Homo sapiens: one gene and its partner. The protein of the gene in region 1 interacts with the protein of each later gene in a biochemical or structural test. Each region holds a gene or a part of one and is shown on either strand. Other genes may lie near its edges.

Region 1 (8,361 bases):
ATTGCTTGAACCTGGGAGGCAGAGATTGCAGTGAGCTGATATGGCGCCATTGCACTCCAGCCTAGGCAACAAGAGTGAAACTCCATCTCAAAAAAAAAGATTTGCCTGTAATCAGCCAGCACCCCCAGCCTTGTGCTCACTTTACATACAAAAATTCTGTTTTTTAGAGCATAAATTGAAGGGCACATTCAAAACTGATACGTAGGCCAGGCATGGTGACTTATGCCTGTAATCCCAGCACTTTGGGAGACCGAGGCAGGTGGATCACTCGAGATCAGGAGTTTGAGACCAGCCTGGCCAACGTGGTGAAACCCCATCCCTACTAAAAAATACAACAAATTAGCCAGTCACAGTGGTGCGCACCCATAGTCTCAGCTACTCGTGAGGCTGAGGCAGGAGAATCACTAGAACCTGGGAGGCAGGAGGTTGCAGTGAGCCGAGATCATGCCACTGCACTCCAGCCTGGGTGACAGAGTGAGACCTTGTCTCAAAAACAAAGACAAAACCAAAACAAAACAAAACTGAGAAGCAACAGATTGATAAGTGACACAGTTACACTGGTCAGTCTCTTCAGCTAATACCCATTGTTTTTTATTATTGGAGATTCATAATGTGTTTTCTTTCTTTTAAAAACTTTTTTCGGAAATGGTAATTTCTCTCTTTTTTTTTTTTTTTTTTTTTTTTTGAGACAGGGTCTCACTCTATCACCCAGGCTGGAGCGCGGTGGCACAATCTCTGCTCACTACAACCTCTGCCTCCTGGGCTTGAGCAATCACACCTCAGCCTCTTGAGTAGCTGGGACAACAGGCACATGCCACCATTCCTGGCTAATTTTTAGTAGAGACGGGGTTTCACCATGTTGCCCAGGCTGGTCTCGAACTCCTGACCTCAAGTAATCTGCCCACCTCAGCCTCCCAAAGTATTGGGATTACAGGCGTGAGCCACTACGCTTGGCCTCATAGCGTATTTTAATATTGGTTGAGACTAGCCTTGCTCATTGATCTTCTCTTAGCGTTTACTTGGTTATTCTTGCTTATTTTTCCATAAGAACTTTCATTTTTATTTAATCCTGTGTTTTTTGGTTTTAAAGACTATTTTATAATAAATTTTCGTGATTAAACTCTTGTGCTTAAACTCTTGATTAAACAAACAAGCAATGAAGAGATGAATGAAGCAGAAAATGTGAGTTTCATGCCTCACATTCCCACTCCTCTGAGGTTAATATTTTCATGTATATTTTTCAGGATGTATTTGTAATCTCATACAAACGTATGTATTTTTTTAATGAAAATATTTAAATTTTCATAGTTAACAGCTGTAGCTCTAACTTGGCAATATCTTCTGTGTTTCTTTACAGCCATTATACTTGCCCACGAATCTTTGAGAACATTATAATGACCTTTGTGCCTCTTCTTGCAAGGTGTTTTCTCAGCTGTTATCTCAAGACATGGATATAAAAAACTCACCATCTAGCCTTAATTCTCCTTCCTCCTACAACTGCAGTCAATCCATCTTACCCCTGGAGCACGGCTCCATATACATACCTTCCTCCTATGTAGACAGCCACCATGAATATCCAGCCATGACATTCTATAGCCCTGCTGTGATGAATTACAGCATTCCCAGCAATGTCACTAACTTGGAAGGTGGGCCTGGTCGGCAGACCACAAGCCCAAATGTGTTGTGGCCAACACCTGGGCACCTTTCTCCTTTAGTGGTCCATCGCCAGTTATCACATCTGTATGCGGAACCTCAAAAGAGTCCCTGGTGTGAAGCAAGATCGCTAGAACACACCTTACCTGTAAACAGGTAAGTCCAGTCTTCATTCTGAATTATAGTTGCTAGCCATTTCTCAAATCACTTTATGGTTGAGTGAGAAGGAAATAATATGTTAGACAAGGTCTTTATTGTATTAATTACATAGTTTACTTACAGCACCCAAAACACAGGATGCCCTGTTCTATTCTGATATTTTAGTTCTCATTAAAAACTGGTATGTGTACATCAGTGTTGTGGGGAGAATTTGCTATCATGACTATTGTCTTTATACAGTAAATACTGAACTTAAGTCACTCCTTTTCTTTTTTTGAGACAGGGTCTCGCTCTGTCACTCAGACTGGAGTATAATGGCACGATTGCGGCTCACTGCAACCTTCACCTCCTGGGTTCAAGCAATTCTCGTGCCTTAGTCTCCCGAGTAGCTGGGATTACAGGCGCGTGCCACCACGCCCAGCTCATTTTTTAAATTTTTAGTAGAGACAGGGTTTCACCATGTTGGCTAGGCTGGTCTTGAACTCCTGACCTCAAATGATCCACCTGCCTTGGCCTCCCAAAGTGCTGGGATTACAGACGTGATGAACACTGTGCCTGGTCTGAACTTAAGTCACTCTTAATGGAGTTATTTGGATTTGAAAAATGAATTTTTACTTTACTTTCAGTTTCAAAGTCTTCTTATAGTGAAACCACAATTTAATGTTCATGACAAATTGTTTCCAGGATAAAAGTAACTGTGATAGTATTACAACTTAAATGAAATTCTAGACATGCGAAGCATGAAAAGATAGATGATTGGTATAAGCTTTTTAACCATGAACTAAAATAATAACATTATATAAAGATTGGTGGAAACTATTGAAGTTTAGGCTTCAGTTGACATTCCCTGAAGTTAAAAAGGATATGTGTACTCTTTAAATGCAAGGTAACATAATGGATTATTTCCATCTAATTATTAATATTTCTAATGATAATCATAGGTATGAAGGGAATGGATAGTATAATGAGAAAGGAGAGGGGGAGATAAAAATCTAAAAGTACTAAGGGCATGTTGGATATTGAAATTCACTACTTTCAAATATTATCATAAAACTTTGAGACAGTAACATTGCACCATTATTTTTCTTCTTTTAAAAACATTTTACTCATTGGTAAAGAGAATATAAACATTGTGGATAACTTTTTTAAAGTAATGGTTTGTTTTTTTTTTCTCCTTCCTCCTTTAAAGGAAGACATATTTTGTTTCTGAGCATGAATTATAATCAAAGTTCTGCTAATTTTTGGGCAAATTAATCCATTATATAATTACCTTCATTTATAAATCAATAATACCTTTACCATTCCCTTTCCAAAAGAACCATGCCTGGCAACATCAGGAACTAGCCAGATGTGTTTTGGAGGCTGCCTGGGGATCCCTTGTTAGACTTTTCGTTCCTTTATGAACCTCTTGCCTGTGGTCCAGCATTGAGCCTCTGCTTCCTTCCAAGCCTTTCCAGGCCAGGCACTTGCTTGTTCTCTCTCTTCTCTTCTCTCTTCTTTTTTCTCTCTCCCTTTCTCTTCTCTTCCCCCTTTTTCTTGTCTCACATTCATCTCAAGGTAACTTAAAGTCCATTTGTTATTCCTCTTAAAGTTATTTTTATTTTATTTTTTTGAGATGGAGTCTCACTCTGTTGCCCAGGCTGGAGTGCAGTGGCACAGTCTTGGCTCACTGCAACCTCTGCCTCCCGGGTTCAAGCAATCTCCTGCTTCATCCTCCAAAGTAGCTGGGATTACAGGTGTGCACCACCATGTCTGGCTAATTTTTGTATTTTTAGTAGAGATAGGGTTTCACCTTGTTGGCCAAGCTGGTCTCGAACTTCTGGCCTCAGGTGATACGCCCACCTTGGCTCCCCAATGTGCTAGGATTACAGGCATGAACCATTGCGCCCAACCTGAAAGTTATTTTAAATCTAGACCTTTATCTGAAATTGCAGAGTGTGAGATGTTTGTTCTCCATTTAAATGGGAACTTCAAATGTCTGAAGGGCTGCTTAGCAATGCTGTTGGGAATGACTGATGTTTGGAAGTGGTTGAATGCCTTCACACCCATCCATGCAGCATTCGTGAACTCTAGTAACTACAGAAGACCAATGCATATCCTGCCTGTGGTTCAGACCTGTGGGTAAGATTTGATCTGGCCACTCCTTTCATTACACTTAGAGATGTAGCTCCCACCCCATGGCTATGACTGGTCTTCGGCAGTGACAAATGCTCATCAGCATCACGTGGATGGGCATAAACTCACCTACCCACTTTCAAACATTAGTCATTCCCCACAGCGTGGCTCTTTGTAGATATGATATCAGTATCAAAAGCTTTGCTGTATCAGATTTCCGGGAATATATTTACCAGGAACCCTGGAGGAAAAAGAGATTAAATTAGGCAATGTTCATGCTATTTTTTTTTCCTAGAAAGCCCTTCCTTTCCCTTTTATGCTCTGTTCAATGGATATTTTCTTTGCTCCCTAGAGAGACACTGAAAAGGAAGGTTAGTGGGAACCGTTGCGCCAGCCCTGTTACTGGTCCAGGTTCAAAGAGGGATGCTCACTTCTGCGCTGTCTGCAGCGATTACGCATCGGGATATCACTATGGAGTCTGGTCGTGTGAAGGATGTAAGGCCTTTTTTAAAAGAAGCATTCAAGGTACAAGAGAATTGTTAACTGCTTCTTTAGTTTCCTACTTTTGATTTCAAACAATTTTGCAGAGATGACTTGGCAGAAATGTCACTACTGGCCTGTTTGGCACACAAAGTATTTGATGAGCAGTTCAGAGGATCATGTGTGTTTGGAAGTGGGTTGGGTGGTGGGGTGGAATTGCAGATTTCTACCCCAGAACCCCAAGATTATACAGCCAACTCGAATGGGTCTTACCCCTCGTTCACCCACATGGGTGTTGGATAGAAGACATCGAGTTACAACCTTGTGAAGATGTCTCTTGGAAAAAATGTGCTCACAAGGAGTTGCAAAGATTGTTTCTTTCTTTTACTTAAATTTAATATATAGCATGCTTAACAGTCATGATGGTGGGCTGGCTCCTGAGGAAGAAAGAATAAACACATTTTTTGGAAATGGTCAGAAATCAGGAATTCAGCTACAGTGGACTTTGAGAATTGATCTAGACACATTTCTTCCCCTAGGCTAGGAGGGTCTCAGTTCACAATCCCCTTGTTTTCTGGGCTGTGTTTAGATTATTTCCCTAACTTTCTCTAAACGCCTTCTGGATTTTTTTTTTTAAATCAACTTGTTGATGAAAAGAATCAAACTCTGTAAAATATTTGAAGAGATTTATTCTGAGCCAAATATGAGTGACAAATGGCCTGTGACATAGCCCTCAGGAGATCTGAGAACATGTGCCCAAGGTGGTCAGGCCACAACTTGGTCTTATACATTTTAGGGAGACATAAGGCATTAATCAATGCATGTAAGATGTACATTGATTCAGCCTGAAAAGGCAGGACACCTGAAAGCAGGGGCTTCCAAGTCACAGGCAGTTCAAAGATTTTCTGATTGGCAATTGATTGAAAGAATTATTATCAGTAGGAAGCAATGATTGGGTTACAATAAGGGATTGTGGAGACCAAGGTTTTATCATGCAGATGAAGCCTCCAGGTAGCAGGCTTCAGAGAGAATAGATTGTAAATATTTCTTAGGGGTCTTAAAGGGTCTGTTCTATCAGTGATTCCAAAAGGGGAGGGAGGGTATAATGAACCATGTCTGTCTCCCTTGTTCCATCATGGCCTAAACTTATTTTTCAGGTTAACTTTGTAATGCCCTTGGCCAAGAGGAGGGACCCATTCAGATGGTTGAGGGGCCTTAGAATTTTATTTTTTGGTTTATAAACTTCAAGTTGTGCACCCCTGATTTCAAGGCTGGTCAGCTCATCTCCCTGCATGTGTCTTTGCTACACTCCTTCTCTCGTACCAGCCCTGATTTGCTGAAGTCACTTTCTTGCTTACTCTTGTTTTCTCTATTTGCCCCATAACCTGTCCCTCAACTGCTCCCTCCCAGGCAACACCCTATGTTTCCATCTGAAAGCTCCCTTCCTTTTTCTATCAAAGCCCCAATGCTTTGTTCTTTGCCAGTTAAGAAAAGCAACGTTGAGAGAATTCATAGTGTGTAAATGGCAAATAGCAATTTACTAAATTAACTCACCCATTGATAACTCTAAGAGGATGTTTTACCTTAAGCAGAGAAATACTGATAGAATCCAGGATATGGTGAGGAGTGAAATGTTGGTAGTCACCTTCCTACCTGTCCCCTGAAATTCACCCTGTATGAATGGCAGCCTCTTTGTCCTGGATTTTATAATTACTAGCTCTGCGACTTCACCTCCTAGCCTGTTTCCTCCTCTGTGAAATGGAGATACTCATAGGGATTTTCTAAAGATGAAATAAGGTTGATTATATGAAAACATATTCAGTGCTCAAATATTTTATTTGTGACAATCTTAACAGTAGATTATAAGGCCAAGTCCATTTCCTGGCTATATGATAAGAACAATATTGATTTTCTGAAATTCTGAACTGAATTCTTGATACGATGACTATTTTGTATCTTGCTGAGTTTCTAGGATTTTACCCCTTAAGAACGTTTGGACCTATTACTACTAACCATATCTTTTAAAAAGAGATCCTTCTTTTTTTTTTTTGCTTTTGGGGAAACATTGGTCTGCTTGAAACATCTTTGACCCCTGAGACTACAGCTAATAACAATTGAAAGTAAATTTCCTTTGCTTCTCTATGTTGTTTCTTCCTTCCTGCTGCATCAGACAGGAATGTCAAATTCTAAATGTGCAAAGAGGAAAGAGTTAAAGCTGTTACAGTTGTACAGTTGTAGTGCCTAAATGATCCTTTCTTTGCATGCTTCCTGTCTTTGATATAAGTGCATTACAGTAACTGAAAGTGGCCACTTATTTTTAAAATTGTCTCAAATAGGCCAGGATGGTACAGTATTGAGAAATTCCTTGCATGTAACTTTTTTTTTTTTTTTTTTTTTTTTGGAGATGGAGTCTCATTCTGTCACCCAGGCTGGAGTGCAGTGGCACAATCTCGGCTCACTGCAAGCTCTGCCTCCCAGATTCACACCATTCTCCTGCCTCAGACTCCCAAGTAGCTGGGATTACAGGAGCTGGCCACCACACCCTGCTAATTTTTTGTATTTTTAGTAGAGACAGGGTTTCGGCATGTTAGCCAGGATGGTCTCGATCTCCTGACCTTGTGATCCGCCCGCCTCGGCCTCCCAAAGTGCTGGGATTACAGGTGTGAGCCACCGCACCTGGCCCATTCTTATGTTTTTTATAATTTTAAACTTGTCTTGCTAACTTGATTTATAAGCTAATTGACCATATCTTAGTCATGTACCTGTCCCCTTCACTGTACAAATGCACTGGAAGCTGTGTTGTGCTTGCTTTTCCATTGATACTTTGTTGGCTTCTTCACACAATGAGTTGCCATCAGAGTGATAAGTGCTGTTGTTTCTCTACTGGGTTATGGAGCACAGAGGAAGGAGGACATAGGGAGAAGGACCTCATCACTTCATCTGGTCCAGATGACAGCATGGCTTATTTTTTGAGCTTATCCTTTACTTTTTGTTCTCTTTCCTATTGGTGTTCATTTAACAAATATTTATTGAGCATTGTACCAGGCTCTACGGATGCAGTGGTGAACAAGACAATAGATTATAGATTCCATGAGGGCAAGGATTTTTGTCCATTTTGTTCACTAGTGGCACTTACCAATTCCTTGAATATGATTTTTCAAAATTAATTGGGCTTATACACAGAGTTCTGTATCATTTTTCACTTAATATTGTCGTATAAGCATTTCTGTTGTTAAATTTCCAGAGACCCTTTTCACAACTGCACAACTGTGTAATATTCTATCTTATGATCAGATTTAATTTATTTAACTCTTTATTATTGAAGGCCCTATCAATTATTTTCATTGTTTTAATGCTATGGTTACTTTATTTGTTCATGAAGTTTTGAAAAAAATAAGTTTCTCTGGATATGTTTTTAGAACAAATCTGTGGGGTCAGAGTGCATTAATGTTTAAAGTTCTTGACAGATGTTTTCAAGTGTTCAAGTCTTAAGAAGGTTGTACAGACTTGCTCTTTTACCAGCAGTGTGAGTGTCGCTTTTTCCAACCTCTTGGTAGCATTGACTCTTATCAAAAAGAAAAAAACCTTGCTACATTGATACGTGATGTATAGTATCTTTTGGTTTCAATTTGCTTCTCTTTATTAGTGAGGTAAATGTTTTCTCATAAATCTATCTGCCATTTGTATTTTCTCTTTTATCTTCTTTATTCAGAGATTTTGCCCGTTTTTATATTGGGTTCTGGCATTTGCTTGATAAATTTATTGTGTGCTTTATATATTAACCTATTATTACATGTATGACAAATATTTTTTCCACTTGACTCTGATTTTGATATGCAGAAATAGTTAATCTTTAAATAGTCAAATATTACCAACTTTGATAGTTTTGTGTATAGTTTTTAAGCCTAAAAAAAGTCCTTTCATACCCAGGCATTATATAAACTTTTGCGCATA
Region 2 (8,361 bases), on another chromosome or scaffold:
TTAGAATTAACCTCTTTTAATCCGTTTCCTACAAAGAAAGCAAATCCATTGTGGGTAACTAGCTCTGCTGCTCACCACCCAGGCAGTGAAACCAAAGGGGAGGACACATGTGACAGCCTCTGCCCCAACACGGGGTGGTGATAAGGAGGTGAACACAGCAGATGCAGGCTTGTACTACAATCTTGAGCTCCTCTTTTGGTTCTCTGCAGTAATGTTAATCCATATTCGTGCGCTTCTGAGTGAACTTCATGCCAACACACTGCTAGTAAACACAAGACGGTTCTGGCTACTGTCTTAAGCCATTACCATGAGGGCTTAAGGTGGCCAAAATGAAGACTTATAATGAATTGACAGTTTGTCACATTCTGATGATGGTATATTTTGTTTTTTGTCATCTAATCTGTTAATTTGCAAATATTCACTGAATGCCTACTCTGTGACACGGCAACATCCCAGAAGTTATGAAAGGGCCATGGTATTCTTTTTTGGTCCAACTGCTTATTTTAGAAACATACTGATTTTGGAATCTAACGCTTACCCTGGATAGGCGGGGATGGCTGTTGGAGGTACCGCTCGGACTGCACCATATACTGTCCGCCCTCTGCCCCTCAAATGGGCTCCTCTGAAAGCGGCTGCCGTGGTGGCTGCAGTAGGGTAAGGGAAGCCAGGAACTAAAGGGAGACCCAAAATATGACAGAAATTTCAACTTGCATTCAATAGAAGGTGCACAGTCACAACTTGCTATGAACCAATTATAGAAAAGATGGAAAGATACGAACCACACCTTTTTGGAAAAGGTGGCATGCATTCAATAAACGTTCTACCCTGGGTCTCTCAGTGGGGAAGAAATGGAAAGAGAGACCCAACATGCAAAAGCAAAAGATTCCATGCCTCATTCATCACAAATCTTGAGTGAGCTTCTCTGTTCCTTCTCAATTTCAGCTTTACAATGCAAGCTGCTGAGAAACAGGTCAAGAAGCTCTGAGAATGACTGCCATAATAAGAGACAGACTTTTAATTACTGTGGGCAGTCTAAATCAGATTGACACAAACTCTTCAACCGGTCAGTTATTAACCTTGCTTCCCAATGTTACTATGTCCACATAATAATTATTACTCAAAAGAACATTCTTTTTATATTTTTACATGGTACCAACCTCTAAGGCACATAATAGTCTTTAGACATTTCATTTCATTAGTCAATTTCATTCTTTTATTTAAAACATTTTAATCCACAAATGTAAGGTGAGGGAAACAACTCCTACCCTGTCCTTTAAAGAGGCAGACAATTTCTAGGGGCCTCATATCCTTTAAAGAGGCAGACAATTTCTAAGAGCCTATTTTAAGTGTGCTGTCCTCTGGAAAGCATGCAGAGACATTGATTCCATGTCCACTGAATCCTGTTTAATTATACCTCTTGCTGGAGTAAAATGGCTCAGGTCAAAATGACTTAGAGAGATCAAGAGAGCTGGGAATAATCAATAATACTGGAAGTACTTCTAAGTGATCCTCTGCTGGAGAACCTGTGGCTGACTCGCAGAGGAAATGTATAATATGCTCTACACATACTTGCTTCTTTTGTTTTCTTTATCGTCAAGTACAGACTAAAATATTCTTCATATGCCCTTACCCCCTCTACCTTTTCCAACTATTTCTGCTTTGTGCAATCTTAATATTTGGTCAGGAAAATTCTAGCACAGGTTAAGCAGGACAGGGCACTGGGATAGTATTTAATATCCCTCTCAAGAAATTTCCATTTCAGTTATGTACTGTACTAGGAAAAAAAAAAACAGTACATGATAGTTCACTCACAACAGTCAAAATCCATGCCAGGCCAACATAGGCTACTTACTGATTAAAGGAATGTAAGTGTTGATACCCCCTCTTCCTGATAGGGGCACTGCTGCATCATTGCCTAGGGACACATCTGCTTGAAAGCTGGATGCTGATTGGATTTTTAAAAAATTTAAAAATGCAAGAAGATTAAAAAGGAGTCACAAATTGAAAAACAGCAGATGCTATTACAATTAAATAGCACAAGTGGAAACATTTACTTAAATACTACCTGCATATAACTCCGGACCATATACAGCTCCAACTACTGGGCTTAATTTCCAACCTGAAACACACAAAATGGAAGGTAAGCATTTAAGACTGTTTGAGGAAAGGGATGATCAGTGCATGTCAAGTTGGCTTCAGCCATCTCTGGGGCTATTTTTGCCTATTATCAACTTCTCTTTGGAATTCCAGCTTGGGGTTTATATGAGAGAGTAACAGTAGTAGAACTAGGACACAGTGAAGAGATAATGAGGGGCTGGGGCTGGGGGGCTTGGCAGGTGTCATGATGTTGGGAGGAGGAAGATGGAGAGGGAATGAGAGGAGAAAAAATAAATAGAAATAAATCCTAGAGTTTGGTAAAGTGTTCTCACAGAATTACCCTGGATGACCTATCCTTCATTTAAAAAAAGAAGGCCGACTATATGTCACTCTGAACCATGCTGTGATGCATTTTCTCAACCCTGTTTATTACTCTAGTTGTTTTAATAAAGGTATCCATGGGCTGAACTCAAATTCAACCTAGATCTTTGACTCCATGTTTGGCTATACAATGCTGGTATTCCAGGTAAACTGAAATCCACTTTTACTCGGATTTACCATTGGGATTTTACTGGGGTTCACCAACTAAAAAAGGAAAGACATGAAATAGTAAAATTCAAGGTACATTCCCAACTTCAGTGCATGTTTTCTGAGGCTTTAATGTGTAATAATCACCTTTAAGTTAATCAGACTTCTTAGCTAAAGAACACCAGAATACTGTGGAACATTAGCTTAAATATTTATAAATATTAAGAGTTTCCAAATAACATTATGTTTAATGTCAACTTTATTTCTTCTTTCCCTTTTTTATATTTATAGGAATATGGCAAGTATTTTTTAAAAAGGAATAATATACGATTGCTCACTGCGAGTGAATAAAAGTAGAATTCCACATGAAAACTTTAATCAATATTAACTGAATTTTACATATAAGCAAAAATACTCTATATTATATATTTTCTGACTCATTTGTCTTTTTATATTAAGACCCTAGCATTGTGCCACACTATTCTATAAATATACGAATGAAAAGAAAAAGGCCAGAATTGGCCTCCTCTTTTTTTTTTTTTTTTTTTTTGAGACAGAGTCTTGCTCTGTCACCCAGGCTGGAGTGCAGTGGCGCAGTTTCGGCTCACCACAACCTCGGCTCCTGGGTTCAAGTGATTCTCATGCCTCAGCCTCCCAAGTAGCTGGGACTACAGGCACGTGCCACCATGCCTGGCTAGTTTTATACTTTTAGTAGAGATGGGGTTTCACCATGTTGGCCAGGCTGGTCTTGAACTCCTAACCTCAGGTGATCCACCCGCCTCAGCCTCCCAGAGTGCTGGGGATTACAGGCTTGAGCCACTGCGTCCAGCCACAATTGGCCTTTTCAAAAGAATTATTGAAATTACCAGATTTAAATGACTGTAAGCAAGACATTATTCAAGTGAAAACCTATTCACTCTGATTCAATCCAATCTCTTATTCATCATTTTATGTGCTCATAAAATGCAATGTCTCTTCAATATTCCACATAAAATTCTGGCAAAATCTAGGTTCAAATCCTACTTGAATTGTAAGAACACAAATATTCTGCAACATCAAATTACACAAATACTGTGCAACATTTCTGCACAAATTAAGAGATTCCAACCAACCTAAATGAGAATGCTGACTGAGAATTCATTAGGAGGAACCCAACAAATTCTTCTTAGGACCTTTAACACAATAGCAGAAGGTTTCTTGCCTACTAAACCTGAATATTAATTTAGAATAATATTTTAAAAAATAACCTTTTTCTTTCCTACCAATGCCACTATTGCCTGAGCATTCCCTTTAAATCCACATAATGGGCAGGCACCGTAGCTCAAGCCTGTAATCCCAGCACTTTGGGAGGCTGAGGCGGAGGGATCACCTGAGTCTAGGAGCTCGAGACCAGCCTGGCCAACATGGCAAAACCTCGTCTCTACTAAAAATACAAAAATTAGCCGGATGTGGTGGCACACACCTGTAATCCCAGCTACTCTGGAGGCTGAGGCACGAGTATCGCTTGAACCCGGGAAGTGGAGGTTGCAGTGAGCTGAGATCGCACCACTGTACTCCAGCCTAGGTGACAGAGAGACTCTGCCTCAAAACAAAAACAAAAATCAATATAATGGATGTATATTGACATGTTGTTAGTAATACTTTGAATATATTTAGTTTTAGAAAATTTACAATGTATTTTCACAGATGCCCTTTGACCTTCACAAAACCCAAAGAGGAAGGTAAAATAGATACCACATCTGCAATCTGAGGTCAATACTATACTTTTCTGGGTCTCATTTCCTAATAATAAGCTGGGAGGGTTGAGTTTCAATAATTTCTTAAAAAATCCTGGTGCCAAAAATCTGTGGTCTCAATTTATAAATATGAAAACAGAATTAGGTTAAAAAACTGGTCCACTGTCACGGAGTAAATAAAGAGTCAAACCTAGAAGGAGAACGTCTGTTTTCTGAATTCCAGTCAGAGGCTCTTTCTGTCACAATATTTCCCTTAGATGTAAAGAAAATTTGACATTCTTTGCCTCTCCTTTCTATTTTGTTTACTTTGAGTTTTTATCAAAATTGTAGAGACTTGTTTTTGTAAGAGCAGTGAAAAGAAAATAAGAGGTAAAGTGGGAGGCAGTGGTATCATACCGATAAAAGGAGTAAGGAAAAATGCAAATTATGCTGATAAATTTGTATCATCTATGTGAAAAGCTGGGCTAAATATATTTATTGAAGACTTTATGGGATATAGTCAATACGGATACATTTCTCCTTGATTTAAGACATTATTAGCACATACAGCCATACTCTAGCAGTGGGTTCAAACTTTTTAAAAAAACAGCAGAGCCAGGCATGGTGGCTCACGCCTGTAATCCCAGCACTTTGGGAGGCCACGGTGGGCGGATCACGAGGTCAGGAGGTTGAGACCATCCTGGCTAACACGGTGAAACCCCATCTCTACTAAAAATACAAAAAATTAGCCAGGTGTGGTGGCGGGCGCCTGTAGTCCCAGCTACTCGGGAGGCTGAGGGCAGGAGAATGGCGTGAACCTGGGAAGCAGAGCTTGCAGTGAGCCTTGATTGCGCCAGTGCACTCCAGCCTGGGTGACAAAGCGAGACTCCGTCTCAAAAAAAAAAAAAAAAAAACTCCAGCAGAAACTCCCCCCTTTATTCTAGATATTAGTAAAAGCTTATGCAGAACCCTAATTGCTCAGACTAAAGTACAGCTGAGACCTCAGAATTCAATCCATTTGGTTTCCTTTTTCTCTCCCAAACTGGCTCTGCAGAACAGTCTGCAAAACCACCACTGGGCTACAGATTAAATTTATATTCCATCTCATTCAGAGACCATGAGTCTAGATTAAATTTGGTAACTGATGTAACAAATTATTCATAGAAAATTTCCTTCTCAATGAGAAAAACTTATAAACCTTACTATATAATATGTAATCATGAAACAGAAAATGATACACACACAACCATACCCATGGCTGTTATCTCTAGGGCTAAGGAGAGCAACAGGTCCAGAATTATAAAAGTGATTAAAATATCCTCCTAATTTATTCCACTTATGCTCAGATGAATGAAAGTCAGAACTAAAAGTAAGAGTCAGTGGGCATCCAGGGGTATTACGGACAAGTCTAACATATTAGAAAGAGCTACAGCAGCTGAAAAAGAAGGTGCTCAGGTGGGATCCAATTTGGGTTAATAGGCAACTAGATAGCATGTTTGCACTGTGTAAAAGATGAACATTACTTAGAACATAACACCTTAATAACTAAAAACTTAGCTCAATTGTAATGACAAAGTTATTCTGTAAAAATAAAATACTCTCCCAGGTAAAGAGACTACTTCAACACAAATCAAACTGTCTTAAGACGGAAATAAAGACATTCTTAGAAGTTTATAAAAACTTCATATATTTACACAAGAATAAACACTCTTTCGAAGATTATAATTTCTTACCATTTGCATATGGTGTGACCATCTTCTTATTGGTCATTACACGTGCTGTAGCATTATTCACCTAAAAATAACAAGGAGAAAAAAGGGCAGGGAAGAAGTGGACCACATTAGGGAACATAAAGTTGCACATCCAATAACAGAGTATTTAGTTTAAAATGTAAATTTCTGAGAGCAGTGATTTAAATAATTAACACAGCAATATAAAATATTAATATATAGTATTTTAATTAAAGTTCTTATCAAATGAGGATAACAAGAGTAAAGTGAGTTTCTTGGTTTCCAAATATCAGTACTCCAAAGAAAATACATTTGCAAGATCTTTGGACATCTTTTTAACAGAGAAATCTCTGCACTAAGGAAAACACAGAAAAAAGTAAATAGGAAACTATATTAGCAATTCACTTTGAAGTCTGTTAATAAAACAGAGGCTTGCCACATGGGTTATGAAATAGATTGATGGAAAGGTGATAAAATAAATCTGATTTCACCTGTCCTAATGTTCAGCATTTTAAATATGTCTGTCAGAGATTTTTACTGTCTGAGGTAAGTAAACAAATATAGAAACCTAAGATTCCCCTGCTGACAGCCTTCAGGACCATTCTGAATTTTCTAGACTACATGGTCTATCAATTTAAGAACAAAGCTTTTAAGAAAGCCTTTAAAGTAGGCACTTAAAAGAATTGAGAAAATAAAGTGTTTATTTATTTTGTTTTATGGTACTCTCCACCCTCATTACAGAACTGCATATTTTAAAGCATTCTCAGTGCTAGAGTAAGTAGGTGTTACAAAGATGCTGCTGCTGAAGAAAAGATGAATGGAACTAAGATGTCAGCATACTGCAGCCCAGTGACAGAACCAGTCTCAAAGCTCTTGCAAGGAGGGTAAAGCTCCACCATAGAACTTGACTTATACTGTGTTGTCAGGTCATAAAACATGCCAATTGAAAAAAGAAGCATAAAATATAAATGTCTTATTTTTGCCTCTTCAAATTTACATTGTGTTCAATTTGTATGGTAATAAATTTTTGTTATGAAAAGACCAATTTTAGGTAGAATTAGAACTAAAAAAAAAACCTCTTCCTATGTCTTTTAAGATTTGTACAGTGATAATCCCCCATATGAGGAAAGAGCTTGAAACTCCATTTACTCTAGCTTCGCCCACCAAATAATATAAACGTTTCACATTTAAAAAGAAAGAATGGGATACAACAATGATGAGACTGAGAGCATGCAGTTAAAAAACACACACACACAAATAAAAGAAAGAAAAAACAATCAATTTTGGAAAGAGGGGAGAAACTGAAAAGCAAGGTTCTCACAGACAAGGATTAGAATGGAGCAAGAGCTGAAACCAGCTGCTGGAGCAGAAAGCAACCAAGCACTTAAAAGGAAAAATGGCCAGAACCAATCAGAAACCACCAGTCAGCAAAAGAGACCAACAGCTGCGTGTAACTGAAGGGATGGGAAAGGAAGAATAGGGAAAGGGACAGGAACAAGGATCCGGAAAAAGAGAGTAAGGTAGGGAAAAAGAAAAGAGAAAGTCAGGAAGGGTGTAACGGGCAAAGAAAGAACAGTCAGAGCTACAAACGGGGGTTTGGGAAACAGGAAAAGTAGGGAAGGATGTAGGGGCAGGAAGTGCATTAATAAAACCAGCCAAACTGGAGTTCAGTAACTCTGAGTAAGATGTGCAAGGGGAAAAAAATCACCATGAAGTCAGTAATCAAACAGCTCAGACCGCTACAAAACAATATGTACATCCAAAATCCAGGCGGCATTACTCAACAGCATTGAAAATAAAAGGGGGAAAGGAAAAGGAAGAGGAACAACAAGTCAAATCACATTTTGTAGTGTTAATGTGAGATGGCAGATGGACTTTTTCTTTCTTATTTAATTGTTTTGTAATTACATTTTTAAAAGCTTCTTCTCTAGTGCTTTTGTTCACTTACCGCCAACGGGCACCATCGCCAGCATTGTGTATAGTTACCATGGAAAGAGTGAGTCAAGTGAAGGGCCCTAAATGCTAAACCATTGGAAAGGAGGGGAAAAAAAGCAAAATATGCAGACATCTTACTCAAAATGGTGGCTTTTACATTTAATACTTTAAAAAATTGGGAAAGGGGAAAGGAGCCAGTTAACCTTCGATGTGTTATCAAAAAGGGCTGGTGAATACCAGGCGGTAGACTTGGTCATAATCACAGTACATTCGCCAGCCAGCCATCATACCCTCTGTTTAAGAATTTTATCCATAAAAATTTAGATACCAAAATTCTTGGTATTAGATATATTTAA

Evidence for each region. Proteins that work in one complex are often made in the same cells at the same time.
Region 2: the proteins of ESR2 (region 1) and RBFOX2 form a complex in vitro, tested with the Homo sapiens proteins (one study listed by BioGRID).

Annotation. Positions count from the first base shown.
Region 1 is NC_000014.9:64,276,072-64,284,432, reverse strand, and holds part of ESR2 (estrogen receptor beta), read left to right. Parts: intron 1-1,357; 5' UTR 1,358-1,447; coding exon 1,448-1,809; intron 1,810-4,279; coding exon 4,280-4,452; intron 4,453-8,361.
Region 2 is NC_000022.11:35,759,350-35,767,710, forward strand, and holds part of RBFOX2 (RNA binding protein fox-1 homolog 2), read right to left. Parts: intron 6,135-8,361; coding exon 6,074-6,134; intron 2,120-6,073; coding exon 2,066-2,119; intron 1,946-2,065; coding exon 1,853-1,945; intron 684-1,852; coding exon of another isoform or gene 672-683; coding exon 539-671; intron 1-538. UniProt on the Homo sapiens protein: RNA-binding protein that regulates alternative splicing events by binding to 5'-UGCAUGU-3' elements. Prevents binding of U2AF2 to the 3'-splice site.